3 separate regions of the Homo sapiens genome follow, and all the other regions are linked to region 1. The links come from fine-mapping of genetic effects on gene expression. A gene starts in region 1. Each other region holds a variant in brackets. All regions are shown on one strand. Distances are from middle to middle. Region 1 holds the start of BCAT1 (branched chain amino acid transaminase 1). Region 2 overlaps BCAT1 (branched chain amino acid transaminase 1). Region 3 overlaps BCAT1 (branched chain amino acid transaminase 1).

Region 1 (10,911 bases):
GGGGGACAAAATCACTCCTAATTGGGAATCACTGGTTTATAACAAGGAGTGCTTCAGGAAAGGCTGCAAATGGGGCAATAGTAATTAAAACGGATCTCCAAGACTGGATATCATTTAGCCAAGCAAAGTCGGAGGAAAAGAAATTCCAAGGAGCATTTGTGCAGAAACAATGATGGAAGATTTCAGGTGTGCTTAGGCACACAACATGTACTCATGTCAGGCTCTCACCAGAGCATCTGAGTGCAAGTTGCATGATTTTGAACAGGAGAAAAAAATCTAATCAGAACGGAGGACTAGGGAGATTACTAGCCATCTGTGTGTTGGGTGGATTGGGGCAGGGAGAGATTAAAGGCAGGGATAACAGTAATCCAGAGGGAAAGTACAATGAATGACCAAACTAGGGCAGTGAGAGTGGGAACTGAGGGGGATGACTAAGAGATTTTGTGGAGATACAATTGGGACGGCTTAGTGATTACGGGATGGGGGAGGCTCATATCTTTCTCTCTTGCTTTAAGTACTATCTATAAAGATAGGAGCTATATGAAAGTTTGGAGGCTGGATAATTGGAAGCACATTAATGACATCAGCAGAGAGAGGGAAGCAGGTTAAAAAGGGAAGATTATGTGCTTGGATTTGGATTAATTGGGCTTGTTAGAATAGAGATGAACCAGAGATCTAGTATAGTTTTAAAAGTTATCAGACTACAGGTCATAGTAGAGACACTAGAGGACAGAGTATAAAGAGGAGATTCAAGATCAGATACAGGTGGGATGAACACCTTGCCTATATTTAGAGGGCATGAGGTGATCATAAATAAGGTGTAAGGACCTGCCAGAGAGGCTGGAGGAGATTCAGAATCCTATCGTGGAAGGGAGGAGTTTCAAGGAGAAGGAGGATAGCTTTGTGCGTCAGGGTGGAAAGTACCCTGAGAGGTTCTAGAGAACTAGCAGAAAGAAGACTTTACAATATCCTTTCAAAATAGATAGGAATTAATTTATTTTTATTTTTATTTTTTTGAGATGGAGTCTTGCTCTGTCGCCCAGGCTGGAGTGCAGTGGTGCGATCTCGGCTCACTGCAAGCTCCACCTCCCGGGTTCAAGCCATTCTCCTGCCTCAGCCTCCCGGTAGCTGGGACTACAGGTGCCTGCCACCAAGCCTGGCTAATTTTTTGTATTTTTAGTACAGACTGGGTTTCACCGTGTTAGCCAGGATGGTCTCGATCTCCTGACCTCGTGATCCGCCCACCTCGGCCTCCCAAAGTGCTGGGATTACAGGCATAAGCCACCGCGCCCAACCCAGTAAATCTAATTTTACATGGGGATTAGGTACTAGAGTGTGTACAACAAGGATAAAAATAAATCCAGTGAGTCAAAATTGTCATGGGAAATTTCCCAAAAAGTACAGTATAAATGATTTTCGAGTATTGAACTTGGTGTGTGTCTGTGTGTGTATGCATGTGTGTGTGCACATGTATGTAATGGGCAATGAATGCAAGTATTATAGGAAATATAAAAACAGTACAATTTTGAAGTATTTTTTACTATGAGAAATAGAGAAAGAGAATGACATTGTTTTCTGAGTGTGTAGAGTAGAATTTTAGAGTAGATTTTCCTCTTTTAAGACAGAGTATCATTGCCTTATGTAAACTCTCCTATTCAAATTCCAGGAACTGTTAATAACTCAAGGCAGAGAATATTTGTGAGTTTCTGCTTTCCTAGAGAAAATTTAGTAAGATACAGGGAAGACATTCTGCAGGTAGTTGGCACATATTTTTCATAATGATGGCAATAAAAGCCTTTGTTAATAACAGTGAGGACAAAATGAAGCTGGACTGTCTGGCGCTCTGGAGTCAACCTCAAAATTAGTGTCTATTAGAAATCTTAGAAATGCTGTCTCTTCTTCAGTAAAAGACACTGCCCATAGATGGGTATATGGTATATATCCAGTTTGGATCCAGTTTTCCTTAAATATCTTTTACTGTGACTTGTTTGAAGTACAGTGCCACTGTCAGAGTAACAACCTTCGTTGATCATGAGCCTCATCATTTGGGAAAAGCATGTGTGTTGTCTGGGAGAGAAGCTTTGGGAGTTTACAGTTGACAATGAGGGAGAACTGTGGGGCCCTTCTATCAACACTAAAGGGAAATGGGAGGAGAGACATAGCTAGATTGTTCTTATATTCTTTTTTTTTCTTTTTTTTTTTTTTTTTTTGGAGATGATGTCTCACTCTGTCACCCAGGCTGGAGTGCAGTGAAGTATGAAGTGATCACAGCTCACTGCAGCCTGGATCTCCTGGGCTCCAGTGATCCTTCCACCTCAGCCTTGGGAGTAGCTTAGACTGCAGGCACATACCACCACAAACAGCTAATTTTTGCATTTTTTGTAAAGACTGGCTTTTGCTATGTTGCCCAGGCTGGTCTTGAACTCCTGCTTTGACGTCCCAAAGTGCTGGGATTATAGGCGTGAACGCCCGGCCCTCATATTCTTCTGTGGATGTTAATTCCCTAACTTTCTCACTTCCCTTCAAGCTCTTTTTTTTTTTTTTTTTTTAAATATATACTACCTTCTCTCTTCCTTTGTTGCTAACATCAAAAGAATCCTTAAGTAGGGGTAACAGCAACAGGGTTGGAGGTGAAACTGTACCTTCAAGCCAAAAACAGCCTGAAGGCTGAAAGACCAGACTGCTGGTCCTGGATGAAATCCATGACGCAGAGTGAGAATTTCTGTTCCTGTTTGCCTGCCCCTCCCCTATTCTGAGCCGATAAAAAGCCCCAGGACTCAGCCTCATGGAGGAGACTTTCCTGCCTTCGGGTAGGGGGACCACCCCCGCTTCCCTCTCTGCTGAAAGCTGTTTCATCCCTCAGTAAAACTCCCCGCCTTGCTCACTCTTCAATTGTCAGCACATCTTCATTTTTCTTGGGCATGGGGCAAGAACTCAGGAACCAATGTGCAAGGCAAACTTGTCTCAGGCGGGCAAATTGCGTGGGGTGCCTCCTGCAGCAGGTAGTATGCCCCGAGCTAGGCCTCCGGCATTGCCGGCTAGAGGTCCTTGACTGGCAAAGGGACTGAGAAAAATCCTGCATTGAGGGAGAGGGGGGCGAGGGGCGGTCGTTGGATCTAGGAGTAATTGCCAGGCTTGCTCTAGAACTTATTAATGCATTTATATCTATGACCCCATCACTCTCTATCCCCTTATTACTCTTTCTCATAAAATTTACCACATGGTACCTGTTTTTTTTTTTTTTTTTTTTTTTTTGAGACTGAGTCTTGCTCTATTGCCCAGGCTGGAATGCAGTGGCATGATCTTGGCTCACAGCAACCTCTCTGCCTCCCAGGTTCAAGCGATTCTTGTGACTCAGCCTTGTGAGTAGCTGGGATTACAGGCACCCCGCAACCACGCCCGGCTAATTTTTAGTAGAGACGGGGTTTCACCATGTTGGCCAGGCTGGTCTCGAACTCCCGACCTCAAGTGATCTGTCTGCCTCAGCCTCCCAAAGTGCTGAGATTACAGGTGTGAGCCACCATGCCGGGCCATAGAGTAACATCTTTATTGAGATATAATTCACATAACATACAATTCACCTATTTAAAGGGTATAATTCAGTGGTTTTTAGTGTGTTCACAGGGTTGTGTAACCATTACCACAATCTAATTTGAGAACATTTTAATCAATTCAAAAAGAAATCCAACGCCCATGAACATTCACTCTGCATTCCACCCTGTCCCCAGATTGAAAACAACTATGTGTTTTCTGTCTCTATGGATTTTCCTGTTCTGCACATTTCAGATAAGTGGAATCATATAATATGTAGTCATTTGTGAGACGCTTCTTTCACTTTGCATAGTTTTCAAGGTTCATCCATGTGACTGCATGTAATCAGTACTTCATTTCTTTTTATTGCAGAATATAATAATATTCCATTGTATGGATGATACCATGTTTTATTTAGCCATTCCTCAGTTGATAAACATTTTGCTACCTGATTTAAAGCTTACTTTCTGTTTCTCACACTAGTATATGAGCTTAATGAGGGTAAGAACATTTTTGTTGTTTCCCACTCAGTCCCTAGCATTTTGCACATTGCCTGTCTCATGTCAGTGTCAGGTTCAAATCTATCTAGCTGTGCTTTCACTGACGGGGGCCAGGAGGTTTCACAAGGACTCAATGGCTGATTAAATGCTTACAGATACAGATTTCTCAGGGCAGAACTTCTGCAAGCATTTTGGCTGTGGTCAGTTACTTTCAGGTTTTCATTACTTTTTGGTTTTCACAGCATCCGCAAGTGCCCATAGCCATTATCTCAGCTGCCTCTCTCTTTACTCTCTTGCCAATGGTGCCAGGCCACAGCAGGTGTTATCTTATCACCTCAGTCCACCATACATATGCTTATCAATTTGAGGGGTCAGCAATTTCACTGGAGGCTGAAACCCTTGTCATAAATGGCTCCATTTTGAGACATTTCAGATTACAAACCACTGTTATATACCAGCCTAGCATGTAGAAATCACTCAGTACATTTATTGAACACATAATTTAACCATTCATTCACCTGACCAACAGTCATTAAGCACTGACACATTTGTTTTCAACACTCCCTCTCTTCCACGGCAGGCCACTTGGTATGGGAGATAAATATGACAAAGGATCTGCCCTTACGAATCTCATAATCCACTGAAGTGACAACTGTGCAAACAAATAATTAAAGTAAAATTAAGAAGCTGGGCACAGTCTCACATCTGTAATCCCAGCAATTTGGGAGGCGGAGGCGAGGGGATTGCTGAGGCCAGGAGTTCAAGACCAGCTTGGCCAATTTAGTGAGACCCCATCTCCATTAAAAAATGATAAAATAAAATAATTGATTTTGAGAAAGGATGTGGACAAAGTGCAGCACATAGACCAAGGGCCCAGTTCTGTTTGAGGGCATTGGAAGCAACTTCCACAGCAAAGACTTGGGTTGAAATTTACAAAAATAGGAGTTTGCCAGCTTGACAGAGAGGCAGCGGAGGTCAACCAGCAGCACACTTAAGCAGTCATGGAGGCTGACCTAGGCGCTGGACATGGAAAAGTAGCAATCCTGGAGCTTTGTATAGATGTGGGGAGGGAACTTACAGGGGACCAACTAGGCTACTGGGCAATTTCACATTATAAAGAATTTTATATGCTCAAATTAAAGGATTAAAAATTTTCCCCCATGTACATAATAAATTGGCAAAAATGGTTATATTTGAGGGTGACTAAGGAACTCTGGGAAAGAGATCGGCAAACCAGGCACATGTTCTTGACTACTGCAAAAGTACATTTAAAGTAGCCGCGGGGGATACATGTATACTTTTGGGCAGGATTGTGCCGTGGTCCTCTCAGCATGCAGCAAAGTTACTTTGGGGACAGTAGGGAGGTGGGCAGGAGCCAGTGATGACGGAATGGCAATCACATTTGACCTCTGATCTGTTTATTTCCTCCTCCTTGACGTCTCCATATAAATGTTACACGGGCATCCCCACACTCGGATACGCACCCACAGTGGCTGATTCGGGGGTAACCGTGTCATTTGCTTGCAACACTGGCACCTCTGCCCTGCACCCCGGGAGTGAGCAGTGAGTGAGGCTCGGGTCTGGGCGCTGGCTCCGAATCTTCGGGCTGGGAGAGACTCCACCATCTGGGGGCGGCCTGGGGGAGCAGCCTTAGTGTCTTCCTGCTGATGCAATCCGCTAGGTCGCGAGTCTCCGCCGCGAGAGGGCCGGTCTGCAATCCAGCCCGCCACGTGTACTCGCCGCCGCCTCGGGCACTGCCCCAGGTCTTGCTGCAGCCGGGACCGCGCTCTGCAGCCGCAGACCCGGTCCACACGGCCAGGGGCTACGACCCTTGGGATCTGCCCTCCGCTCAGCTCGAGCTTCCCTCGTGGCCGACGGAACAATGAAGGTAACTACTTATGGTTTTGTCCGTGTTTTACAAAAATGTGTGCGTGAATCGAACCGGCGATTTCTCCAAGAAACATAGTTGGCAGGGAGGGGAGGAAGGCGAGACAACCATGGCTTATATCCCCCGCAAACGTCTCAGTATCTTCTTTATCAATCGTAGTTTGCGGGGACCGTGCATTCTGTTCAGATTTCGGTTTAACCTCCACTCGCAGGACGTGCCTTCTCGGACTTTTTCACATTCGCTTTTGGGAACGGAGGTGAAAGTCTGCTACAGCTCCCTCCCCTGCTTGTGAAGTTTGGAAAGGAAGTGAGGGCTTCTCTCAGTTTCTCCTATGCACAGGAGGTGGGGAATTTTGGAGAGGAGGTCTGGGGATGTCCCGGGCTGTAAATGCGCTTTCCTGCAGCGTGTGTTCGTGATGCAGGAGGGAGCGGCTGGAAGAGTTGACCCGGGTGGAGAGGGGAGGGAGAACGATCTTTTCACTGTTAAAAGCAGAAGGCCCCTCTTATTTTGTTTCTTGTGGAAATTAAAGCTTCTAGGAGTTACAAATGATAGACGCCTAAGGGCATTCATTTGTTAAACCAGTGAGCACCCTAATGGCTCTGATCTTGCTAATCAAGGATAATTAGCCTAGCTGCCTATTATTTCTGACTATTTAGGTGTAGGGATGTACACCGTTGAGTGTTTTGTTTTCCTAGTTTCACACACTGGAAAACTGCAATCGCATATAAAACCCGAAGAGCAACTTTTTCCAAGGAAAGTGAAGGATGGGCAGATATTCTTGCCATCTAACATTTTGGAATTGAGATGACCATAATGCAATCTGAACTTCTGGTAGGAATAAAGCCTCGTTTCAGAGTTTCTAAGGAGGGAGATGAAGCGTGGTTCTCAACTGCTCTTATCTACAACCCATCCCAGACCATAGTTTCACTTAGAAGAAATAATATGTAAATAGCGCCTTTGTTGCCAAACAAAAACTTTCACTACAATTAAACAGTAACCGAGTGGAAACTATGCGTTTTTGTATTCAACAGAGATCACACAACTTTTCTTCTATAGTTAGAGGTTCTATTTCTGGCTTCCTCATGCTTGTTTCATTTCAGATGAAAAACACACTTTAGTTGATTATAGCTTTAGTAAGTAAAAGGAGAAAACTAAGAATGAACAGTCTTGCTTTTCCAGCTTTTTCCTGTCCATGTGCAGTTGTGGTTAATTACGCGTTTTTGTAGGTCCAAAAACCCCTGTCCCTTCCACAAGATACTTTTATAACATGGGGAACTAGGTAAGATATCTACAAGTAGTCTCTTTTCTGTTTCCTGATATTTCCTAAGATTAAGAAAGAAATGATTGTATTCTAGGTATGATCGAAGAAGTATGGAAGGTTCCATTAAGTTAGTTTTATCACAATATTTCAAACATCTTTCCACTTATCTCTTAAATATGTATTGCTATCACAAGCTTGATTTTTTAAAAAAATGTTATTTGCACATGGCATCTTGATTGCCTTTGTCCTCAGCAAATTCTCCGGGCTTAAGTCATGCATGAGCTTGTATTTTAAGACAGACACATGCAGAATGGGCAACTTGGATAAGAAACATAGGATATACACTGAGTAGCATGTGTACAAAAATGGTAAGTGAGTATTATGACTTAATAAATTTAGATGGGGATTTAAAAATGATACACATGTAAATGGGATTGGAGGCAAGGGAAGTCCGTGTGTGTGTGTGTGTGTGTGTGTGTGTGTGTGTGTGTGTGTGTGGAGGGAAGACGGGAGGCCTAGTGGGGAGAGAGGTTTTACATTCCAGACACAGGATGTGGCCCCTCAGGCTAGGCTCAGAGATGTAAAGCTAGTTAAGCTGGCCTAACAAAAGGGTGGTGGTTAGAAAAAGGAAAAAAAGAGGTGGGGGTTGGGGAGGAAAAGAATTTAATGCTGGCCAATATTTTCATCTGATAAGTTTCAGTAATGAGTAATTTCACTGGATTTCAGAACTACAGAGAGAAAAGGGGAAAAATATTTTTCCTTTTTTACGCAAGAATTTCTCTTGCTTTTCAGCTCATTAGAACCAGATCTAATTATTTGAAATGAGTTTAAAACCTTATTATGAAAGGAAGTTGAAAACATTCGATCACAATTGAGTTTTGTACTATGGACTAAAACCAAGATGTGCTTTCTGTCAGTAGCTGTGCAACTCCCTGAAAAAAGAAAAATAGCGCAGAGCGATCTGAGCTTTGTGAAGGCTACACAATTTATCAGGCCCAGAGAGATAGGAGTGTGAGACTTCAGTCACGTCCCCCCGTACGCATGCGCAGGAGTAATTATTTAAAGACATTTTGTTCCTGACTAACTGCCTCACTCATTATGTTCCTGGAATTTGTGATACAAAAAAACAATGTTTAGCCTATCAATAGTTTATATAGTTTATGTTATTTTAATATAAATTCTTCTCAACTTAGAAACTGCCTCTTTTTTCTTTTAAAAACCCACTTGTAACTGCTGTATATATTCAGGGCAACTTGATTTGGTGTTTCGTTGGTTGCAGTCCTCAAATTTGACCTCAATATACTCTCTACTTATATAAATTTTGTCTCAGTTTTGTCCGTAGGCTGACATTCCAATTGTTTTCCTAATTATATATTTTGTTCCTTATTTCTCATGTCTAGAAATAAAGCTAGGGAAGTAAACAGCTGGAAAACTGATAGTGGTGTTATTAACCTAACTGAGAGGGCTGGGCTTATGAGTAAATTATTCCTGTGCATAAATGAAAGATTGTTTCTAAATGGCAGCTATGTTGAGCCTTTGTATTAGTTACATCTTTTGGGGTTTCAGGTTGCCAGCTTCTTTAAATGGCCTCTTCTCAACTGGTATAGGAAGTTGGAAAATAAAGAACTTTCTTTATTTCCCTTTAGTGTTGGTAACCACAGTTTCTTTAAATAACAGATGCCCACCCCAGGGAAACCCAGTGGCATGATCAGCCTTATGCTCAGGAAGGTTTGGTTGCTATACTGGAGAGTGAGAATCTGGGACCTTCCATGATAGACATAATTGTGCCAGCTATCCTCTACTTTCTATATGATGCTATCATTCTTTTTTCTTTTCTTTTTTTTGACAGAATCTCACTGTGTTGTTCAGGCTGGAGTGCCGCAGAGTGATCTCTACTCACTGCAACCTCTGCCTCCTAGGTTCAAGCAATTCTTGTGCCTCAGCCTCCTGAGAAGCTGGGATTACCACCATGCCCAGCTAATTTTCGTATTTTTTTGTAAAGACGGAGTTTTGCCATGTTGGCCAGGCTGGTCTGGAACTCCTGGCCTCAAGCGATCTGCCCATCTCGGCCTCCCAAAGTGCTGGGATTACAGGCATGTGCTATCATTCTTTTTGAGCACAGGAGGAAACTATGGCTGATCTGCTCATTTTACTGTCAAAAATATAGGCAGCTTTTGTATTGTAACATTATCCCCTTAACAGCTGTCCAACTGGTCTATACATTTCACCTAACATATGGTAAATGTTCCTACTGTTGGCCTTTCCTGAGCCTCTGTCCATTCAACTAAGGCCACTGCAATGGGATTGTATGCAGTTCAGCCAAGAAATAAATGTGAGGTGCAACTCACATTTTTTAAATGTTTCAAAATTAAGCATTTAGGTGCTTTTATTCATAAACATGACTTTGCAAATATTGGTAAACAGTTTCATCATAAGACCTTGTCAGTGACTCACAATGTCAATGGTGAACGCAAAGGAGAATCTGTCTTTTCTGGAACACCAGGTTCAGGTATCAGTTTCAACTATGCTTATAATTTGTGCTCTAAAGTCCACAAAGCTAAATTATCTTTCCCCTAAAAATTGAGTACTCATATCCTTAAAATAGCTTGGAAATTAGATTACCTTATGAATACAGCATAGCATGTCACATAAACGTTTTTCTACTGTTATACCTTTTTGGTGGGAAAGACTATTTTGCAAAACATTTTTCTTGTGTTCAGTAATTAATGGGAAAAACAAACTCTAAAAGAAAGAGACAGTTATGTCCCAAAAATACAGGAAAATGGAAGAATGGAAACAGGGAAGACCAATAAAGAAAAAAATAGAGGAAATTACAAGTAATAAACTGAAGTCATACTGAAAAACATATGGCTCTTTCTTATTGAAAGTTGTGAAATACTTGCAAAACTCAGCTAGTTCCATTAAGAATAGTCTTTAATCTAAAAAGAACAAATTCATTTGTCAGTTCTTTATTTCGGTGTGTAGATTTGAATGTTTCATCAATTGCATTTACGGTTTATCCCTCAGTGTGAGAACTGTTTTTGCTGTTTTGACTATAAATGGATATCTGCTTTAGGAAGACTTAGGAAGCCTGGGACATAGGATTACAGATCAAATTCTATTTGACTCCATAGAAGTTGAGACGGAAGGAGCACCTGTTGGGATATTCTAGACCAAACATTCCACAGCTGTCTCTTAACGTGACTGACAAAGAGACACAGTTGAGACGAAGTTTGGGTATATCCTGGGATGAGGCCAAGGGTGGATTTGCACAGGATGGTCACAGGGCAGTTGTTAGCATTCCACCACTACATAAAAGGGTGATTTTGCCAAGTGCATTTCATTTCATTTCAGTTGATTTAGATACCAAGTTATATTGTTTTGACTTTAGGACTAGATGTGAGTTCAGGAATTTGAAATCATAATAAATGTTTCCTTGAACTTTGAAGATAAAAGGTAGAGTTAAAAGACAGCTGCGAAGTCTACATGGGGAAGCATAATACATGACTCAGGGTTCCATGGTTTTCAGTGTCGGTGAGTGCTCTGTACACTTATAAGAATAGTGCTGGTGTTTATAGAAGAAACACATGCAGGTTTGAGGCAAGACTTCCTTGCTTAATTGGTGCTTTTGCTTTCCATTTTCTAAATGCCATGCAAACTACTTTTTTTTTTTTCTTTTGTTGAGACGGAGTCTTGCTCTGTCACCCAGGCTGGAGTACAGTGGTGCGATC
Region 2 (10,911 bases), 40 kb after region 1:
TGGCTTATAAAATAATCCACCCGCTGGGCACAGTAGTTCACACCTGTAATCTCAGCACTTTGGGAGGCTGAGGTGGGCAAATTGCTTGAGCTCAGGAGTTCGAGACCAGCCAGAGCAACATGGTGAAACCCTGTCTCTACCAAAAATATAAAAAATTAGCCGGGCATAGTAGCATGTGCCTGTGGTCCCAGCTCCTCGGGAGGTGGATGTGGGAGGATTGCCTGAGCCTGGGAGGCAGAGCTTGCAGTGAGCTGAGATTATGACACTGCACTCTAGCCTGGGCAATACAGTGAGACCCCATCTCAAAAAAAAAAAAAAAAGATAATCTACCAACCCAATTTCTCAACTGGGGAATGTTGGGCTCCTGCTCTCCTGTCTCTGACCTTTCATTCTCCCTTGAGGCTAGCCATCAAGACTACAACCCCTCTTCCCCAAAGTGGGCCATAGAAACAAAACCCCTTTTCCCCAAAGCCAACCATAAAACCTAAAAATAGTACTCTAACTTCCACCACCCCCAGCCTGTCTGTGTAAGGCCATAAAGAAATTATCTGACTCACTTTGTTTGACTGAAGGTTATAAGACCCCCATTCCAGAGAGGGTCCAGCACCACACCCAGAAGGAAGAAATGCATGCTCAGAGAGGCAAGAAGGGTCCAGACAGACAGGCTGTGCTGGATTTCCCTGCTCAGTCTATTAGCATTAGACCATACCTTTTTTGTCCAATCATATTTCTACGTGGCTCTCCATACTTTGTTTAACCTAACCTAAGGGGGCTCAGGGTTTTGGCCTGGGCATTGTCTGTTGGGGAATAGAGTGAGTCATCCCCAGCTCATGGGTTTGCATCCAGTTCTTGTTGTAAAAGGCCCAAAGCCTGTTGGATGGCAACCCTGAGCCATCGTGGAAGGGGGGTTCCAGTTTCACAAATAGATACTCAGACAGCCAAACTACCATCTACTTGGTGCCAACGTTTGCACTGTGGTCAAAGACTTACCTAGCACAGACTGAACAAATCTTCCCATCTGTCACATAAATGTCCCCAAGCAATGTTGAAGCACATGCCAGGATCGGCCTTGCTAGGTCCTGCTTGGTAGATAAGCAAATGGCTTCCTTGTGGTGTTTTTATTCTATTTTGTCTCATTAACACTACAACTTTGTGTTATCTACTTGATAATCTGTAATTGTAAATACATACAGGATTATGTAATTTGTGTAAATACATAATGACAGACTTCTGAAAACTGGTATTTTTTACTTGGTGTCCATTTGAAGCTGTTTTAGGTTCTGTGGCACATGAACCAATGGCATTTAAAAAGCATACTCTCCTTGCTCTTAAAAAAACAAACAAAACAAAACAAAAACTGTCCATTAAAATTTTTGTATTTTTGTAAAGACAGGGTTTCACCATAAAAATGGACAGTTTCCCTTATATCTTTGGGTCTTCGTTCTGTAGGCTCTCGTGTCACATAAAATTATGATCAAATAAATTTGTATGACTTTTCTCCTATTAATCTGCCCCTTGTCAATGATTTTGAGCAACCTTCTGAAGAAAGTGATGGGGAAGTATTCCCTTTGCTGCCACAAGGTATATATCAGATAAGTCAGTCTATTTTCTTGAACATATATCACATTCATAGGAAAAACACTTTTTCCAAAAGATTACTGTCTTCCCAAATACCCACGTTCTCCATTTTTTTTTTTTTTTTTTAGAGATGGGGTCTCACTGTGTTGTCCAGGCTAGTCTCAAGCTTCTGGACTCAAGCAATCCTCTCACCTCAGCTTCCCAAAGTGCTGTGATTACAGACATAAGCCATCACGCCCGGCCCCATTTTCTCCTTTGGGTGTATGTATATTGCTCATTGTCAGGCATCAACCATTTCTCTTCTCTGAGATGGAGTCTCACTCTGTCACCCAGGCTGGAGTGCAGTGGCGCAATCTTGGCTCACTGCAAGCTCTGCCTCCCTGGTTCACGCCATTCTCCTGCCTCAGCCTCCCGAGTAGCTGGGACTACAGGTGCCCACCACTACGCCCGGCTAATTTTTTTGTATTTCTTTTTTGGTAGAGACGGGGTTTCACCGTGTTAGACAGGATGGTCTCAATCTCCTGACCTCGTGATCCGCCCGCCTCGGCCTCCCAAAGTGCTGGGATTACAGGTGTGAGCCACTGCGCCCAGCCCTCTTCTAATTTTTTATATTTATCATGTATTTACTAGAACTGGTTTATTTTCGTGAGCATATGTTGTGGATTCTACTATAAATAATGCACTTAATAATCATTAATAAAACTTAAATCCTTTCCGTCTTGATTGTGGCCTTTTCTTTTTGCTATTAATTTCCTCAGCATAGGTTAACCTGAACTCTTAAAAGCTATTTAGGTACTGGTATAAAACAAAATTTTCTCCAAAGCAATCCAGTATATAATATCTGGATTTTAAAAAAGCAGCCTCATTTAATTAGGATTAATTTCTCCTTTCAGAAGTTAAGTGATTCTGTTTCTGTAAAACGCAAAATTATAAGCTTAATTGTTTTCCACACAGGAAATGAAATTCCTAATCTTTTTATCCAGAATCTTCATGTGTTTGTCTCTCTGTCCATCTGTCACTCCTTTTTAAGGTACCTGGAGATGACCTAGAGGCTTGCCACGCTTAGGGTTTCCTCCCTGTGCAGAAGAAGATGGGAAGTGCAAATGAGGACGAGGGGTGGGGAGGGAAGAGGGAGTCAGGTGATTCAGCAAGTGCAGGAGCCCACAGACTAAGCTCAGGAATTTGCACTTTGTCTGCTCGCAGAGTGAGTTTCATCGTGGTGTGTATATATTGAGATATGCAACAGACTCCACTGGAATGTCAGAAGAACTTATGTTTATTTTTCCTCTAACATGTGGGAAAGATTAAACTGTATTTGTATTTAACTCACATAGATTGGCACGTGCTCATTCTGTGTGTCACCCTGCCACGCTGTCACAAACTTCGAGCAGGGTCCTGAGGGGAGAGGAGGGCATAGCTCCTGCTCCCAGGGGGTTGCCTGTGTAGCCCTGCGCATTCATTCTCTTCCAGAGGGTTGTGATTTGTGGCGGTCTGTGTGAGCCTGGTTAAGGAGAGTTACAGATTATGTCATCTGGTGTTAACTGATAATCTTTGCAAAAGGGACATTGGCTTTAAGAGATGTCTGCAAAAAAAACTCTAAACAAACATAAATAAAAATTTAAAAGGATAAAGCCAGAATAATAATGAAAATATTAGTAATGTAAAACAAGGAAATGTGTCATGTTTTTCATGATAACTAATATTTTTTCAATTTTTTTTTTTTTTTAAGACAGTCTCACTCTGTCACCAGGCTGGAGTCAGTAGTGCGATCTTGGCTCACTGCAACCTCCACCTCCCAGGTTCACACAATTCTCATGTCTCAGCCTCCTGAGTAGCTGGGTTTACAGGCACTCGCCACCATGCCCAGCTAATTTTTGTATTTTTAGTAAAGACAGGGTTTTACCATGTTGGCCAGGCTGGTCTCAAACTCCTGACCTCAGGTGATCGGCCGCCTTGGCCTCCCAAAGTGCTGGGATTACAGGCGTGTGCCACTGTGCCTGGCCCCAGTTCTTATTATAAGTTCTCCATTAACCATATCATGAGATTAAAAAAACAACAATGATTTCATCGGAACTGACAAATAGTGGGTGACACAATTTTGATCATCAAGAAGACTTTAAAAGAAGGATTTGTATCACTGTCATTACTGATTACTTGGCCCTTGTGTATACTGGGCCTTTAGCTAGGGCTGGTACAATAAAATAACCATAGTTAGAAAGATATTTTAAAGGATTACTTATTTCATGTTTATCTCACCCTTTTATCCCTATTTTTGGGCATGATTTATTATTATTAGGTTTTTAAATAAATAATGAAATAAGCATGTTAGGTTTGCATGCTGCTTTGGTTAACATTGCTATATAACCAACCACCCCAAACTTTGTGGCCTTAAAACAATAATTTATTTATTTATTTATTTATTTATTTATTTATTTATTTATTTATTTTTGAGACAGAGTCTCGCTATGTCACCCAGGCTGGAGTGCAGCGGCATGATCTCGGCTCACTGCAACCTCCACCTCCTGGGTTCAAGTGATCCTCCTGCCTCAGCCTCCCGTAGAGCTGGGATTACAGGCACCCGCCATCAAGCCCAGCTAATTTTTCCTTTATTTTTAGTAGAGACGGGGTTTCACCATGTTGGCCAGGTTGGTCTCGAACTCCTGATCTCAGGTGATATGCCTGCTTTGGCCTCCCAAAGTGCTGGGATTACAGGTGTGAGCCACTGTGCATGGCCAACAATAATTTATTTTTATCTCTCATGGTCTCTAGATTGCCTGGGCCCGGCTGAGCAGTCTGAGTCAGCCTTATGGTCTCTCATGTGTTTTTAATCAGTCATGAGGGGCCGGCATCATCTGAAGGCTTGACTGGGCTGGATGTTTAAGACAGCCACTCACAGGGCTGACAGTGATGCTGGATGTTGCACTGTTGACTAATGAGCCTGCACGTGGCTCCTCCATGTGATTTGGGCTATTTATAGCTGGGGTGACTGGGTTCTAGGTGGGGTAGTTCCAAGATCCTTCCAAGAGGAAGAAAGCAGAAACTGCCTGGCCAGTTAGTGTATATGCTTAGTCTTAGAACAGTGTCACTTCCATATTTCTCCATAGTCCATTAATCAAAGCAGTTACAGGAAGCAGACAGACAGGAAGGGAAAACACAATGCAACAGAAGGAGAGATTGAAGTGTTGGCAGCTGCAAGCCAAGAAACACCTGGGTTACCAGAAGCTAGAAGAAGAAAGGTAGGATTCTCCCCTACAGGTTCCAAAGGAAGCTGGGCCTGTCCACACCTCACCTCTGGAACTATGAGACAATCACTTTCTGTGGGTTTAAGCTACCCAGTTTGTGGCACTTTGTTACTACCGTCCTAGGCAAATGATACAGTAACTACATACACAGTACATAGAATTGCTCATTTTACTTCGTTGAATGGGACTTGGCATTGAATAAGCCCAAATGAGAATTCTTTTGTCAAGATTTTTTTATGGCTCACTTTTCCAGAGACGTGACATGGCAGGAGTAAGGGGAGGGTTTGGCAGGTAGGAATTATACTCATCTGTCATTGTCTTCCCAATACCAACCAGGAAGCATGTAAATAATAGCTGTGCAGTTTGTTTTCTGAACCAAACTGGGCCTTATTTTTTTTAAAGAAACTTTATTAAACAAACAAAAACCTAGAAACACTAGATGTATATTTTTAAGGTTTCTCTCACATAATATCCTAATCATCAGTATACCGTAATCCAAGGGCTACATATAACTGAAAAATAAATGGGTCTTAAAAAAATTAAAACATGGTATATAACACTAGCTAACATGTACTGAGCAGTTACTAAGTGCTAAGTACTGCTAAGTCCTTTATAGATATCTTCATGTTGAGTGTCGTCACTGCCCATTACTTACTCTGAGTTTAAATATGAGACTCAAAAGAGGTTAGTAATTTGCCAAAAGTCATAGGGCTTATAAGTGATAGAACCAGGATAACGAATCTCAACCAAGGGACTTCAATGCCCAAACCGGTGCTCAGACTGTAGCCCCATGTAGTTAGCTATTTACATTTGAAAAAATTTTTAATGTTTATTATTTTTTTTAAGACAGGGTCTTGCTCTGTCACCTAGGCTGGAGTGGAGTGGTGTGATCTTGGCTCACTGCAACCTCCACCTCCTGGGCTCAAGTGATCCTCTCATCTCAGCCTCCCAAGTAGCTGGGACCACAGGTGTATGGCACCACGCCCAACTAATTTGTTGTGTTCTTGGTAGAGGTGAGTTTCACCATGTTGCCCAGGCTGGTCTTGAACTCCTGAGCTCAAGTGACCTGCCCACTTGCCTCACCCTCCTAAAGTGGGGGGATTACAGGTGTGAGCCACCATGCCCGGCCCAGCTATTTACATTTAAATATAAATTAAAATGAAACAAGATTAAAAATTCGGTTTCTCAATCACACTAACCACACTTGAAGTGCTCAGTAGCTACATGTGGCTTAGTGGCTACCTGGCAGATATAGAACGTTTCCATCAGCACAGAAAGTTCTACTGGAAAGCATTGATCCAATCTCTTTGAACAGTCACAATGCATATAAAGTCCTTATTATGACTGTACAAGGGAAGACAACGAGTAGAGGAAGGCAGAAAATAGGAAAAAAGGAAGAAGAAAGATTTAGGGTGAGGGAGAGCAGTTCTATGAAGAAAAGAAGCTCATATCTAGGAGTGGAGTGGACCCTGAGAACATGTTAGTCTATTATATTCTAAACTTTGGCAGTTAAAATTCCAAAGTATATTAAGTACATGCTTTCTAAAATATTAGAGAGCTGCAGTTCAACAGATTTTTAACTCTCCACAGCATGTCCGGCACTGGGTGAGGTGGGATGGCTAGGTGAATAATATAGGCATTGTCATGTGTGTTCGTGTGAAGAGACCACCAAACAGGCTTTGTGTGAGCAATAAAGCTTTTTAATCACCTGGGTACAGGCGGGCCGAGTCTGAAAAGAGAGTCAGCAAAGGGTGGTGGGATTATAATTAGTTCTTAGAGGTTTGGGATAGGCGGTGGAGTAGGAACAATTTTTTGTGGGCAGGGGATGGATCTTACAAAGTACATTCTCAAGGGCGAGGAGAATATTACAAAGTACCTTAAGGGCAGGGAAGGATATTACAAAGTACCTTCTCAAGGGTGGGGAGGGTGTATCATACAAAGTGCATTCACAAGGGTGGGGAAATATCACAAAGTACATTATCGCAAGGGCAGGGAGGGTGTATTGTCACAAAGTCAATTGATCGGTTAGGGTGGGGCAGGAACAAATCACAACAGTGGAATGTCATCAGTTAAGGCAGGAACCTGCTATTTTCACTTTTGTTGATCTTCAGTTGCTTCAGGCCATCTGGATGTATACGTGCAGGTCACAGGGGATATGATGGATTAGCTTGGGCTCAGAGGCCTGACAGACATGAACTTCCCATCATAAAATTAGAAGAGCATTAATCAAATGATTAGAATAAAATATTACCATTATTTTGAAATGGCAAGCATTGTATGTAAATAAACAGCAGAGGAACCCACTGTAGCCTAGACAGGGTTCAGAGACGTTCCTGCCAAGGACATGGCACAGGGACTGAACAAGGAAGGATGACAGTGCCTGGCAAAGGCAGGGAATGTTACAGGTATTTGGGCACCTGTGAGAAGGCCTGATGTCCGAAAGGACTGAAATAAATTAAATGTGTGGGGGGAGAGAGAAAGAAAGAGCCTAGCAAAAGGTGAGCTGGAGAGTCAGAGGCAGAAGGCAGAATCTGGGATGGGCTGGGAGCTTGCCAATCATTTTGTCAAATGGGTGATGTGAAGCCTTGAAGGTTTTTTGACCAAGAGGAGATGTCTTCAGATTTGCGTTTGAGACATTTTCACTGGTTGTCATGCTAAGAATGGCTTAAAGAGAAGCAAGGCTGGGGTCAGAGGAGCTGCTTGGAAGCTGTTTGGTACTAGGATGCGGATAACATGGTTGGAGAAATGGCAACTGTCAGGGTATTTGGAGCAAGAATGGATAGACATTGGTGATCATCACTTGGATGCATTTGAGGGACAACTGCTATGTTTCTACTAGAGCAACTACATAGAGCAGGAGTAAGCAACTTACAGTCCACAGACCACATTTGCTCTGTCCCGTTTTTCAAATACAGTTTAATGGAAACAGAGCCATGCCCGTTCTTTCACCT[A/G]TTCTGCATGGCTGACATCAGGCATGGTTCTAAGTAATATACATAAGTTTCATATATTAATGCTCATCTATCCCAGTTGACAAACATGAAGTGTTGCTATTGTCTCATTTTACAGCGGAGAAAACTGACATAGAGATTCTCTTTCGCACCCATAGCTTCAGTTACCACCTCTATGCCAATGATTCAATAATACCTCTAATCCAGACCTCTTCTCTGAGCTTCAGACAGGCAGATCTCTCACAGCCAGTCTTGGAGACACTTCAGAAATCATAGGTCCCAAACCAGACTCCTCCTCATCCCCTCAAACACATTCTTTTTCAACATTCCTTTTTTCTTAGTGAACATCACCAAATAGATAAGCAAGTCAGATCCAAGGAGGCCTCCTTGGCACTTCTCTCATCCTTGTCCCACCTTATATCATCTATTTTTCTTTTTCTTTTTTTTTGAGATGGTGTCTCACTGTGTCACCCAGGCAAGTGCAGTGGTGTGATCCTGGCCCACTGCAGCCTCAACCTCACCAAGTTCAGGTAATCCTCTCACCTTAATCCCGTGAGTAGCTGGGACTACAGGCACATGCCACCGAGCCCGGCTAATTTTTGTATTTTTACCAGAGACAGGGTTTTGCCATGTTGCCCAGGCTGCCACCTTATCTCCATTCTTGCTGAAATCTGGCTGTTTCTCTCCACTTCTATTACCAACCACCAGCCAAATCTGACTTATTAAAAGGATCATCTCGTATGTGGGTTCTGTAATAGCTTCTTCAAAATCCATTCCTCTCCACCCAGACCCTCTTCCAATCTCCAAACTGCAGCCAATACCTTCAATTCTGTCACCGCTCCTGCATACTCCACCTAATCCTTAACCTTTCAATGGTTTCTCTTGCCCCTAGGTTAAGCTAAATTGAAAACTGCTAAAGCTACAGCTTCTTAGTGTAACTAGTAAGTACAGTGACTACTATGTCTGGTTTACTTCAGCTGTTGCTGACTAATAGCACTTCTTGAATGAAGAAATTATATTACCGTACTGTAGGGAAAAATTTGTACTTCAATGGAAAACTGAATTATTTAGAGCAAACCTTTAAGGTTATCTGATTCTGATTCCATGGGCCCTTTCATTGGGTCTTACATTGTTTCATTGTTTTTGAGTTATTTTACAGATGACTGATAGAAATGCAAAATAATTATTGCATGCAGTCATGCAAGTAAAATCTGAAGGTCAGGGTTCAATTAACTTCTCTCCCCTACTGTGGAAGAAGCCAATTTCATTTGCATATTCATTTCAATATTTCTGACCTATAAACATGCCTGTTCTTTGAACCAGTTTTTATATCTGCCTGGTAACTTCATTAAATGATTTAAATAAACTCTATAATTTAGTTTATTTTATACCTGTATGACAGTCAGGCTTTTACCTTATTTTTGCTTTTTAAAATTATTCTTTAGCTCTCCCTAAGGCACTACTTGGCTGGCCCTTTGGCTACTCACTAGCCCAAGCTCCATCCTCTTCTGTCTACCGCAGCCCCAGGCTCTCTTTTGGCCCTTTGTTCCAGCCCTCCTCAGAGAAGTTCTTTTGTCCTGGAACTCACTTTCATACCAGGTGCTCTTCATCCCTTCTTCCTTTAGTAAATTTCTTTAATCTTTCAGATTTCTGCTCAAGGATCACTTGCTGAAAGCCTTTCCAGGCCTTTCTGAGTCAATACAATCCATTATTAGAGGCTCTTAGAGCACAGGCAGCACTTGTTATAATTTTACATCTGTCTGTGGGATTCCTTAACACTTTCTAACACAATTAACACTTTTCTCTCTGGCTGGGGGCAATGCATGATAACAGGATGATGGTATGCTCTCAACCCTCCCCCAGCAACTAGCCCAGTGCTTCGAACATGGTGGATAGATACACCGTTTTTATTTTAGACAGATTTTTGAGTAGCAAGTACCTACTGCTCAGGAGACAGATGGACTGAAAAAATATATTTGGGAGTCATCAGCACATAGGTGCAGCCATGAAAATGCACGAGAAGCAAAACCATTGGCAGGAACAAAATGAAGGCTATTAGAGACCTTATTTAGGTGGAATAATTGGACAGAAGCCCTTAATGGGGAGGAAATAGAAGCAGTTAATACAGATGGAGGCCGGGCGCCGTGGCTCACGCCTGTAATCCTAGCACTTTGGGAGGCTGAGATAGGTGGGTGGCTTGAGTCCAGGAGTTTGAGAGCAGCCTGGGCAACATAGCAAAACCCGGTCTCTACAAAAAATACAAAAATTAGCCCGGCGTGGTGGCGCAGGCCTGTAGTCCCGGCTACTGGGGAGGCTGAGATGGGAGAATTGCTTGAACCGGGGAGGCGGATGTTGCAATTAGACGAGATCGCGCCACTGCACTCCAGCCTGGGCGACAGAGCGAGACTCCGTCTCAAAACAACAAGGACAAAACTTATCTTATAAGCGACCCTGGACTTCCAGGGACACTCGCCGCTCTATGGTGGTACGTGACCTGCCTGGACTCTGTGGTCTTTGGAGCTTGGGACCCCACCCCAGCGTAAGAGGCCTTTCTGTGCCTTGTATAAAGGAGAGGAAAAGTGTAGGTTTTCTGAGTTGATAAGATTAGAGCTACAGTATATTATCAGTAGCGTTGTATGAAACCATTTAAAAAACCAAACCGGATTTAACCGCTTTCACCCAGAATAAACTGCCCTCCCCCTCTTTCCAAGATCAAGTCAGCCCCAGTTACCACTTCCTATTAATTTAAAAACCAGGAAGGCTCATAATTTAGGCTGACGTTGCCCCAGGCGAACACTGCATATAAGACAATAGCTATTCCAATCCTCCTTTCCCTTTCTAAACCGAATAGTACTTCTAACATCACTTTTCCAGTCCTCTTTCTAAATATTGCGATCACGAGCCTACATCGGAAAACTATGAAAACAGTATGATTGGAGCTCTTGATGGTCTGCTTTGCCTGAAAACGATGAAAGGCATTGAGATCTTTGGGCAGAAATGGCCCTTAGGGAATGCGAGCCTGGTAGCCCCATAACACCCCGAGTTACAAATTCGGTTTGGGTAGGTGGCGCAGGGAAATCTAAAAGCTGGATTCACGTTCTCCCCCTTCAGTTTGCACATAGCGGTCAGTGGCAGACAAGAGC
Region 3 (10,911 bases), 53 kb after region 1:
CGTCACGTAGGTTACCCCGGGTCCCGCTTACCCACCTGCATTTACTTAATGGTGGTTTAATTCTTCTTTAAGGATTGCAGTAACGGATGCTCCGCAGAGTGTACCGGAGAAGGAGGATCAAAAGAGGTGGTGGGGACTTTTAAGGTAAGTTGCTTGCCAGAGGCTTAGTGTCTAAAGCAACGTTCAACTGAATAAATCCATTTCTTGTTGAGATTCGGGGAAATTTTCACTGTGTGGGTTACCCAGTTCCTAGGTTGTGTTGCCAGACTTTTAAAATTCCACTCTTAGAGGAAAAAAAGCCATTTAGAGAGTGACAGTACATTCATCACAACAAAAATTATCTAGCAGCTAATTGCTGATTTTATTTTGAGTCATATATTTTTCTTGAAAAATAGTCAATGCGTAAATATTAAACTAGTTGTTTATCAGATTCCATAATACGTACAAACCTTCAGTCTACTTGTAGAAAAAGTTAAACTGTGATTTTTCTCTTTCAGTAGCACATAACACTCTACAGTGAAAGTGTTGCATTTTCTTCTTTTCTATCTGAATTGCGGGGTTTATATAGTAAATAGCTCATACTTCAAACAGTGAGAAACAAAGCACGTTGAAAACTGTACAAATACAAATGTAAGATGTAATATTATTTTTTCTATAAGTCTATCTCCTACCCTCCCTCCTCGTGGAGGTTTTAGCTTCTTCTTTTTATGCCTAGTGCTGCTCTTCTGCCTGTTTGAGTCACTGTCAATTGTCATCAGACAATTGACACAGAGTGTCCTAATGATCTCACATCCTGGCGGTTCAGAGAGGGAAGGAAACTTGACTCATCAGTTTCTCACACATTGAGCTCTCTCACAGTGTGCTGGAGACTGTGCCATGCATTGGACATCCAAAGGTGAATTCAAGATTAGGTCTCTACTTGCAAGGAATTTTTATTTTATTTTTCTTTTTCCTTCTCTTGCTGTCATCTTAGCAAGGATTTTTTAAAAAGCAAAATTAGAATATTGCAATTTCTTTTCTGTTTTTTGAGACAGGGTCTCGCTCTGTCACCCAGGCTGGAGTGCAGTGGCACGATCTCAGCTCACTGCAATCTCTGCCTCCCAGGTTCAAGTGATTCTCCTGCCTCAGCCTCCTGAGTAGCTGAGATTACAGGCATGTGCCATCACGCCCAGCTAATTTTGTATTTTTAGTAGAGATGGGGTTATCACCATGTTAGCCAGGCTGGTCTCGAACTCCTGGCCTCATGCAATCCACCTCCCAAAGTGCTGGGATTGCAGGCGTGAGCCACCAAGCCTAGCCTGAAGAATTCTTTGCAAAGAAAAATATCAACTCAAATTTAAATAATCTTTTCCTTTCTTTTTCTTTTTTTTGAGACAGAGTCTTGTTCTGTTGCCCAGACTGAAGTGCAGTGGCACCATCAATTAGGTATCACTTTCAGCCTTGATCTCTCAGACTCAAGTGATCCTCTTAGCCTCTCAAGTACCTGAGACTATCGGCTTGCATGCCATCAGGCCCAACTAATTTCGTCATTTTTTGTAGAGATGGGATCTCCCTGTGTTGCCCAGACTGATCTCCAACTCCTGGGCTTGTGCAACCCTCCCACCTCGGCCTCCCAAAATGCTGGGTCACAGGCATAAGCCACAATGCCTGGCCATAAATAATCTTTTTTATTTGTTAATTTAGATTTCTGTATATTAGGTTTTATTTAGGGGAATTGCCTGTTTACACTCATGTATTTACACATCAAAACATGAGTTATGGTGGATGTATTCACAGCACATATGTAATAAGGCATGTGTAAAAATGATATTGATAATTTAGGGAATAAAAATGGTAGATTTTATAGACCATCTTTGTTTTTGATATACTTTTCTCTGTCTCAAAAAACAAAAACAAAAACAAACAAACAAACAAAATATATATATATAGCCTACATTGTTGTTAACTATAATCACCCTACTCTGCTATGAACAGTAGACTTTATCGCTTCTATCTAACTGTATGTTTGTACTCATTAACCAACCTCTCTTCCTCCACCTACACCCTTCCCACCCCCTGCCATCTTCTGATATCTATCATTCTATGAGTACTCTCTTCCTCCATGAGATCAACTTTTTTTTTTAGCTCTCACGTATGAGTGAGAACATGCAATATTTGTTTTTCTGGGTTTTTTTTTTTTTCTGTGTTTGGCTTATTTCGCTTACCATAATGACTTCCAGTTCCATCCATGTTGCTACAAATGACACGATTTTACTCTTTTTTAATGGCTGAGTAGTATTCCATTGTGTATATGCACCACATTTTATTTGTTCATTGATGGACACTTAGGTGATTCCATGTCTTGACTATTGTGAATAGTGCTGTAATAAACATGGGACTGCAGATATCCCTTTGATATACTGATTTCCTTTCCTTTGGAAAATACCCAGTAGTAGGATTGTTGGTTTATATGGTCATTCTACTTTTAGTTTTTTTTTTGGAAAGCTTCATACCATTTTCCACAGTAGATAAACTAATTTACATTCTTACCAACAGTGTATAAGCGTTCTCTTTTCTCTGTATCCTCATCAGCATCTGTTATTTTTTGTCTTTCTAATAATAACCATTCTAACTGTGGTTGCTTTTGACATATTTCTCTACCTTTTTGTTAATCTACATCATTTATAACATTTCATATGGCCTTTTGGGTCTCTCTTGGGTAGTTTTCGTATTTCTTCTCCCCTCCCCATTTATGATGCAGTCATATTACATGAGGATGCAGTTTTGCAGCAGGGCCTAGCAATGAGATACGTTGTTACACATCCTGGCGAATCTTTCTGTGGACTCTAGGATCCTCTTCATTTGCAAGAGGTCAGCCATCTATTTCTTCCAATTCCTCCAGCTTCACATATCTCCACAGAATGCAACACTGCAAATCTGCAGTTCTCTTCATGATCCTCTTTATTAGATTTTAAAAGAGTATCTCCAAAAGATGAACATAGTGCCTAAGGCTTTCCAAATGGAGTAAG[A/G]ATAATGCACAAGAACCTAGAATAAAGTTATTAAATGTCTGATACAGTTGTAATACAGACTTGATTTTTGAAAAATGTGGCCAATGAAGAGAAGAGCAAATGTGCTATACGATGGTGAGCAAAAGGTGTTGACAGGCCTGGCATGGTGACTCACCCCTGTAATCCCAGCACTTTGGGAGGCTGAGGTGGGTGGATCATTTGAGGTCAGGAGTTTGAGACTAGCCTGGCCAACATGGTGAAACCCTGTTTGTATTAAAAATACAAAAATTAGCCAGGTGCGATGACACATGCCTGTAATCCCAGCTACCTGGGAGGCTGAGGCTTGAGACTTGCTTGAACCGGGGAGGCGGAGGTTGCAGCGAGCCGAGATTGTGCCACTGCACTCCAGCCTGGGCAACAGAGCAAAAAAAAAAAAAAAAAAAAAAAAAAGTGTTGACTGAACCCTGGCTGAAACAGTTTTCAGGTGCTTTCAACAAATTTACACTTCCCTGCCCTGAGCCTCCCTATTTCAGAACAAATGATTACCCAACTGCAAACTTTGAATTAGGAAGTTGTTTTTAATATGCCCTGTTTTTCTCAATATTTCTTGCCATTTCACAATCAGTTATTGTGGCATTCCAATTCTTCCACAAACATATGATGTGAAACATCCTGACTTCGATGTCATCAGGGAATGTGGAGCATTGGAAAGAGACAGATTAATTATGCAGAAGAAAGTATCATTTGACAAAATATTATTTTTATTTATCTTTGGAAAGGAAATCTAGAAAAAGAAAATACTTTTTAAAGAACACTGATAAAAATTGTTTATAAAATTTGTTTCCTTTAGGAAACAAATCGTTCCCTTAAAACTACATTTCATATCTGCCCCAAACGAGTCACATGTCTTCAGCTAATATTGCTTGTTTACGTTTGAACTTTATTCAATTCTATCACCTAGTAATTTAGTATTCTTAGGTAATTTCTCTTTGAGCTCAGGTTAAAAGTTGTTATTTTTAGTTTTCAGAGTTGCAGAATTTTTTTTTCAAGTAGAGAAAAGTTCATGATGAGATTCTGAAGCCACCTAATCGTATATTACTTTGAAAAACTGGATATATGCCGGGCGCGGTAGCTCACACCTGTAATCCCAGCACTTTCAGAGGCCGAGGTGGGTGGGTCACCTGAGGTCAGGAGTTCGAGACCAGCCTGGTCAACATGGTGAAACCCCATCTCTACCAAAAATACAAAACTTAGCCGGGTGTTGTGGCACATGCCTGTAGTCCCAGCTACTCAGGAGGCTGAAGCAGGAGAATCACTTGAACCTGGGAGGCGGAGGTTGCAGTGAGCCCAGATCACATCACTGCTCTTCCGCCTGGGTGACAGAGTGAGACTCCATCTAAAAGAAAAAGCAAAACAAAACAAAACTGGATACAGGGCAGTGCTTAGGTACAAATCAGAAAGTTAGAGGTTGCTATTCATATCATTAAGAAATAATGTGTCTTACGAAAGAATGTAGCAGTTTACTGAAATAGAAGTCATACCTAGAAATGTAATAATTTATCTTTAATTGTCAGAAATTTAACTGATATTATGAAGTTCTAATTATAAGAACACTTATTTGAGGTTAAAAATTACCTTATTCTATCCCTGCTTTGCCGCTAATTTGATCTCTCTGGATTAGTGGGTTATTGTGGGTCCTATGGGTATTTTAAGGAGAGGTCTCAGAAAACTAAAAATTATATATACTGGATCATAATCATTCTTGTCACCCACTCTCATCTTTCTGTTTTTGTTTTGTGTTTTACTACCCTTCCCCTTTTACTAAGTAGTCTTAGTAGAAGAAAATTTGCATTAAGTTTGTCGTACTGTATTGATATGGCTCCAAATGTTTCTTAGCCCAGGGTCCTCCCCATTCACTGATAAAAGCTAACTAAGGTAAATCACAGGTGTTTATTGTGCAAGAATACTGTGAAACTATTCATGTAATAAAAAGTTTGTGTTAGAATTTCACTCTCTTTAAATCCTGGACATCTTCTGTGAGTGTATCTGAAAGCAGCCAGACATCTTCAGTATTTAAGAAACCCTTTACTATTCTGTGTGCTAGGCACTGTGTTAGCTTTGGAATTCAACTGTGAATACTCTAGCCAGACTTCTTGTCTAAATAGTCCAGAATAGGGGTTGCTAAACTTTCTTTCTTTTTTTTTGAGATGGAGTTCCACTCTTATTGCCCAGGCTGGAGTGCACTGGTGTGTCTCTGCTGACTGCAACCTCTGCCTCCCAGGTTCAAGCAGTTCTCCTGCCTCAGCCTCCCAAGTAGCTGGGATTACAGGCGCCCACCACTACACTCAGTTAATTTTTGTATTTTTAGTAGAGACAGGGTTGTGCTGTTTGCCAGGTTGATCTCAAACTCCTGACCTTTGGTGATCCACCCGCCTCGGCCTCCCAAAGTGTTGGGATTCAGGGTGTGCCACTGTGCCCGGCCTGCTAAACTTTCTTAAATGGCTAGATGATAAATATTTTAGGCTTGAGGGCCATCAGGTTTCTGTTACAACTAGTTGGCTGTGCTGCCACTGAAGATACAAGAATGGCGTGACTATGTTCCAATAACATTTTAATTTCAAAACAGGCCAGCTGGCTGCATTTGGTCTGCAAGTAAAGTCTGCCTGACCCCCTACCTAGTCCAGAGGACAACGGGAGAGAAAAGGGATTCAAAGATAAAAATAATTTAGCTGGAATATATTTCTTTAAATAAACTTATTATACTTAGTAAAAAGTCTTAAATTAACGTTTTTACTTGAATTAAATAGTGGTAAAACAGGCTGGGCACAGTGGCTCATGCCTGTAATCTTAGAACTTTGGGAGGTCGAGGCAGGCAGATTGCTTAAGCCCAGGAGTTCGAGACCAGCCTGGGCAACATAGTGAGTCCCTATCTCTAAAAAAAATACAAAATAATAATAATAATGGTAGAACAAAGTCAATTTTTTATTGAAACTTGGCATTTTATTGGCATATTACAAAGTAGCATTACTAGACTAGCCTGAACATTACAGTAATATTCTGTCCTTAATGCCTTTTGTGTCACTGTAATATGAGCTTTCTGTTTGTTTTGGAATATGTTTTCAGCCTGAATATTATTCTAAAAATACAATTTACTATCATTCATAATATATCAAATGACTCACGTAGCTGCAAGGCAGTGAATTAAACAGAATTAGATCATTTTAAAAATAATGATAAGAGCTGATGATGTAAAGTGAAGGTCTGTATTTAATTTGGGAGGGAAAAGACTTTTTTTGTATATTCAAAGAGATGGAGTTTGACATCCCTTCACAACCTGTTACAGGTTGAACTTGCCCCTGTTTTTTTAACTGATCAAAAAGTTCCTTCTCTTGTGTTTCTTTTTTTCTTCTCTTTTCTCTTCTTTTCTTTTCTTTTTTTTTTTTCTGAGACAGAGTCTTGCTCTGTCTCCCAGGCTGGAGTGCAGTGGTGCGATCTTGACTCTCTGCAACCTCCGCCTCCCGGGTTCAAGTGATTTTCCTGCCTCAGCCTCCTGAGTAGCTGCGACTACAGGTGCATGCCACCACGCCTGGCTAATTTTTAGTATTTTTAGTAGAGACGGGGTTTCACCATGTTAGCTAGGATGGTCTCAATCTCCAAACCTTGTGATCTGCATGCCTCGGCTTCCCAAAGTGCTGGTCTCCTGTGTTTTTGTCAGCATTCCACAGATGCTATAAAGTTAGTGGTGGTATCGCATGCAATTTGTACGCTTAATGTTTGGCCATTTGCAGTGGGCAAACTGGCTATGTCGGGAGCTGGTGAGATGCTGCTTGTGGGGAGTTGTTTCCTATTACTCTGATTTATCTTTGTTTAAATAAGAGTTCCTTTGTTCACTGTTTCCTCCACACAGAACAGAGGATTTATATCTTAGTGTTCATTCTCAACTTTCCTGTTTTCAAAGAGGAAAACATTTGCTTCACTTTGCTCATTTCTTCTCCAGTGCACCCAGAGGATTTTGAAGGCTTATGCCAACAATTCTTTGGGGCAGTTGGAGTGTAACCATTGCTAAATAGCAGTTCAGTACTTAATGACATTCATTTTAGTTTAACAAATCATTGTGAGTGTTGCCATTTTTTATTAGGGAAAACATCTCTTTCATCTTTCCCAAATACTCAACATGAGTCCTATGGTGAGAGTGAAAAAGGGTTGTATTCTTTTTTTGCATCATCTTACCCCATCTGCTATTTTGTCCCTCTTCTATATATCACTGAAATTTGGTTCTGATATTCTATTAGGCAGTGTACATTGCAGAGATTATGAATAACTGGCCGAATTCTGAATGCAGGCATGATTTGTTCAGCTCAGAGTGTTAAATTTCTGTGTTAGCTGCTAACCTTTAAAAGTCAATTGATTTCCTTTTTTTTTTTCCCCTCTGTATAATCTAGCCAGCGAATGCTCAGTAGCTTTTCTGTAAATAGTGATGATTTTTCTTCCCCAGGCTAAAGACCTAATAGTCACACCAGCTACCATTTTAAAGGAAAAACCAGACCCCAATAATCTGGTTTTTGGAACTGTGTTCACGGATCATATGCTGACGGTGGAGTGGTCCTCAGAGTTTGGATGGGAGAAACCTCATATCAAGCCTCTTCAGAACCTGTCATTGCACCCTGGCTCATCAGCTTTGCACTATGCAGTGGAAGTAAGTACATGGGAATTAAAGAGAGTGACATGCTTGCACTTCACTGTGGGTACTAAGTAGCTTCTCCTGCTAAAATAGCTCTTGGGCAGTATGGGCTTTATCATATTTACCAGAGGAAGCCGAAAATGTCTTTAAAAGTTTTCCTATAGACAGTTGGATTGAAGATAAATCTTAGCAGCTAATTTTTCAGATAATCTTGCATTTTCTGTGACGTCAATAAAAAAATTATTTAAAGCAAATAGAAAGGACAGCTGGTGGGAAAATTGGCAATTAAAAAGCCAGCACTGTTGATAATTTAATAAGTCACCTTTCTTCTTAGATCTTCTAATAATTGAGAAAGGGTCATTGAGAACAATATTATGATTTGATTTTAATGCTAACTCCACATTTTTATGACCAGTAATAATGTCTAGTTATGCATGTTAAGGGACATGTAATTAAATGTCCTCCTTCAGCCATGAGTTGAAATAATTTTAAGCATAAAATGTTTAAAGAATTCTTTCTCTGGTCCTTTTCAGGGTGCACAATTAACCAGATGCACAGTATACTTCCCATTGTCTTGATTCTCATTGTATTTTACTTTTGAATGATTTGGACATCTTTCCCAGAATAATAGGGGTGCTGGAAATAATAATAGTCTTCCTATTAAGTGCTAAAATATGGTAATAGTAAAATATTAATAGATTAATGATAAAATAACAACTTTTGTTTACTGAATTCCTGCAATACGTTCTGTATTATGTTCCATATATGAATCATCTCATTTAATTACCTTAAGTGAGAAGGCATGTGATTAAGCATTCAGGCTTTGAAGTCAGACATCCTGGGCTCAAATTCGGTCTCATTTGCTCCATAGGAACCTTTATGACTTGAGGAATTTAATCATTTGTGCTTTAATTTCTTTATCTATAAAATTGGGGTAGTTATAATATCTATCTTACAGTGATCTCATAAGTATAAAATAAAGTAATTTATCTAAGCATATAGAGTCATATCTGGTGCATAGCGAGAGCCCAGTTGTTAGCAATAATAATTAACTCTTGAAGCAGTGGTCTCATCCATTATAAAAGGAGGCTCAGAAGAGTTGTTTCTTGACTAATATTACACAGCAGTAAGGGTGGAGCTAAGGTTCCAATGAGAAGCTTCTTTCTGTTATATAGCCCCTACATGTATACACCAAAATTACTAGGATGCTTTTGCAATTAACTCCTTCAAAATTATAAATTCATATAATTTTGGAAAGATATTCACTGTCCATATGTATCCACAAAATGTTGAATTTAGGAATCTAAGTTTCTGTTCCCAGCTCTTCCTGTTATGTCAATTTGAATGAGTTCTTTCATTATTTGCCACAAGCCCTCACCATGTCATAAGGTATAATAAAGAACAGGTGAAATGAAGTGCTTTTATTTATTTATTTTTCAGACAGATTCTTGCTCTGTCACCCAGGCTGGAGTGCAGTGGCACGATCGTGGCTCACTGCAGCCTCAAACTCCTGGGCTCAAGCAAACCTCGTACCTCAGCCTCCTGAGTAGCTGGGACCACAGACACATGTCACCATGTCTGGCTAATTTTTACATATTTTGTTGAGACTGGGTTTTGCCATGTTGCCCAGGCTGGTCTCAAACTCCTGGGCTCAAGCAATCCTCTTGCCTTGGCTTCTTCAAGTGCTGGGATGACAGCCATGAGCCACTGCTCCTGGCTATGTGCTTTTAAATTTGAAAGGAATAATATGCCCAAGCCCAGGTCACTGGTTCTCAAACTTAATGTGCATCAGAATCAGCTGGCTACATCTCCAGAGTTTCTCATTTCTAACAAGTGTCCAGATCATGTTAATTTTGTCGCTCCAGGGACCACATTTTGGGAATTGCTGGCCTATGGGAAGTAAATGAGAAATGATTTAATGTCATTTTTGGAAGTTAAAAAAGATTTTGGTGGTCACTGGTTTTTGAAAACTCTTTGAAGGCTGGGTGGGGTGGTTCACATCTGTAATTTCAGCAGTTTCGGGGAGATGGGGTTCTTGGGAAATGAGCCCTCCACCCATGGGATCTGATGCTATTTCCACGTAGATAATGTCAGAGTCGTTCAAACCAGAGTGACTCCATCCTGAATAGGGGCTGGGTAAAATAAGGCTGAGACCTACTGGGCTGCAACATGATGAGACCCTGACTCTATTGAAACAAAACAAAACAAAACAAAACAAAACAAAACAAAAAACGGCCAGGCGAGGTGGCTCACGCCTGTAATACCAGCACTTTGGGAGGCCAAGGCGGGCGGATCACGAGGTCAGGAGATCGAGACCATCCTGGCTAACATGGTGAAACCCCATCTCTACTAAAAATAGAAAAAAAAAAAAAAATTAGCCGGGCGTGGTGGCAGGCGCCTGTAGTCCAAGCTACTTAGGAGGCTGAGGCAGGAAAATGACGTGAACCCAGGAGGCGGAGTTTGCAGTGAGCCGAGATCACGCCGCTGCACTCCACACTGGGTGACAGAGCAAGACTCCATCTCAAAAAAAAAAAACAAAAACCTCTTTGGCCATCTATTTAGATGAGTTGGAATGCTACTTTGATTGGTTTTGCCAATTTAGATTTTTGTAATTAGGGTAGTTTAAAAAAACTCTCAAATTACTGTTATCCTTTGTTAAAAACCAAAATCTTTTATTATTAGTCTTCTGCTTACAATATAAGTAAAATAAATGTTTTGTATTAATAACTGGATTGTATATTGCATGGTTACCACTATGTAACAAAATTAATAGCTTAAAATTACAAGCGTCATTTTAAAATTATTTTTCATGTTTCTGGGGTTGACTAGGATGGCTAAGTGGTTTTTGCTTGGGGTCCGTCACACGGTTGCTGTCAGTGGCTGGGGTTAGAGTCAGCTCACAGGCTTCCTAACTCATATGGTGCTGGAGGGAGTGTCTCTTAGCATGCTAATGCTTCATAATTTGTGTATAATGAACAGTGAGGATGACCAGAGGTCACTTTCATTGCCATCTGGGCTGCAAAACTCAAGGAGTTGAAGGCTCTTCCGGCATTACTTGTTCTCCATGTGGTCTCCTCAGGATGGCAGTCACAGAGTAGGCAGCCTTCTTATGTGCTGACCTAGGGCCCAAAATCTGTATGTGTCAGTTGACTGAGCCCAGATGGAAGCTCTATTGCTGTTTACGCCCTAGCCTCAAAACTACTCTTTCAAGAAAAATTCTCCAACCGAGTTTTTCCTCTACTC

Evidence for each region.
Region 2: its variant is fine-mapped to the expression of BCAT1 in whole blood (INTERVAL, PIP above 0.99).
Region 3: its variant is fine-mapped to the expression of BCAT1 in whole blood (INTERVAL, PIP above 0.99).

The regions. Positions count from the first base shown.
Region 1 is chr12:24,943,935-24,954,845 of GRCh38, reverse strand. BCAT1 (branched chain amino acid transaminase 1) reads left to right here and starts at 5,745. Exons shown (of 11, transcript NM_005504.7): 1 at 5,745-5,919. The coding sequence starts at 5,914. It overlaps BCAT1-DT (BCAT1 divergent transcript), which reads right to left and starts at 5,683. Exons shown (of 3, transcript NR_199054.1): 1 at 5,516-5,683. RefSeq lists enhancers at 2,492-2,561, 2,942-3,011, 5,292-5,381, 5,502-5,851.
Region 2 is chr12:24,903,493-24,914,403 of GRCh38, reverse strand. The region is part of intron 1 of BCAT1 (branched chain amino acid transaminase 1); the gene reads left to right. LOC124902898 reads right to left here. Exons shown (of 1, transcript XM_047429951.1): 1 at 6,499-10,911. Among named protein-coding and RNA genes, the nearest start is that of BCAT1, 40 kb to the left of the region's middle. RefSeq lists a silencer at 2,655-2,949 and an enhancer at 9,157-9,879. The variant A/G (reference allele first, on the strand shown) is at 7,772.
Region 3 is chr12:24,891,047-24,901,957 of GRCh38, reverse strand. BCAT1 (branched chain amino acid transaminase 1) reads left to right here. Exons shown (of 11, transcript NM_005504.7): 2 at 73-144; 3 at 7,483-7,683. Among named protein-coding and RNA genes, the nearest start is that of BCAT1, 53 kb to the left of the region's middle. The variant A/G (reference allele first, on the strand shown) is at 3,009.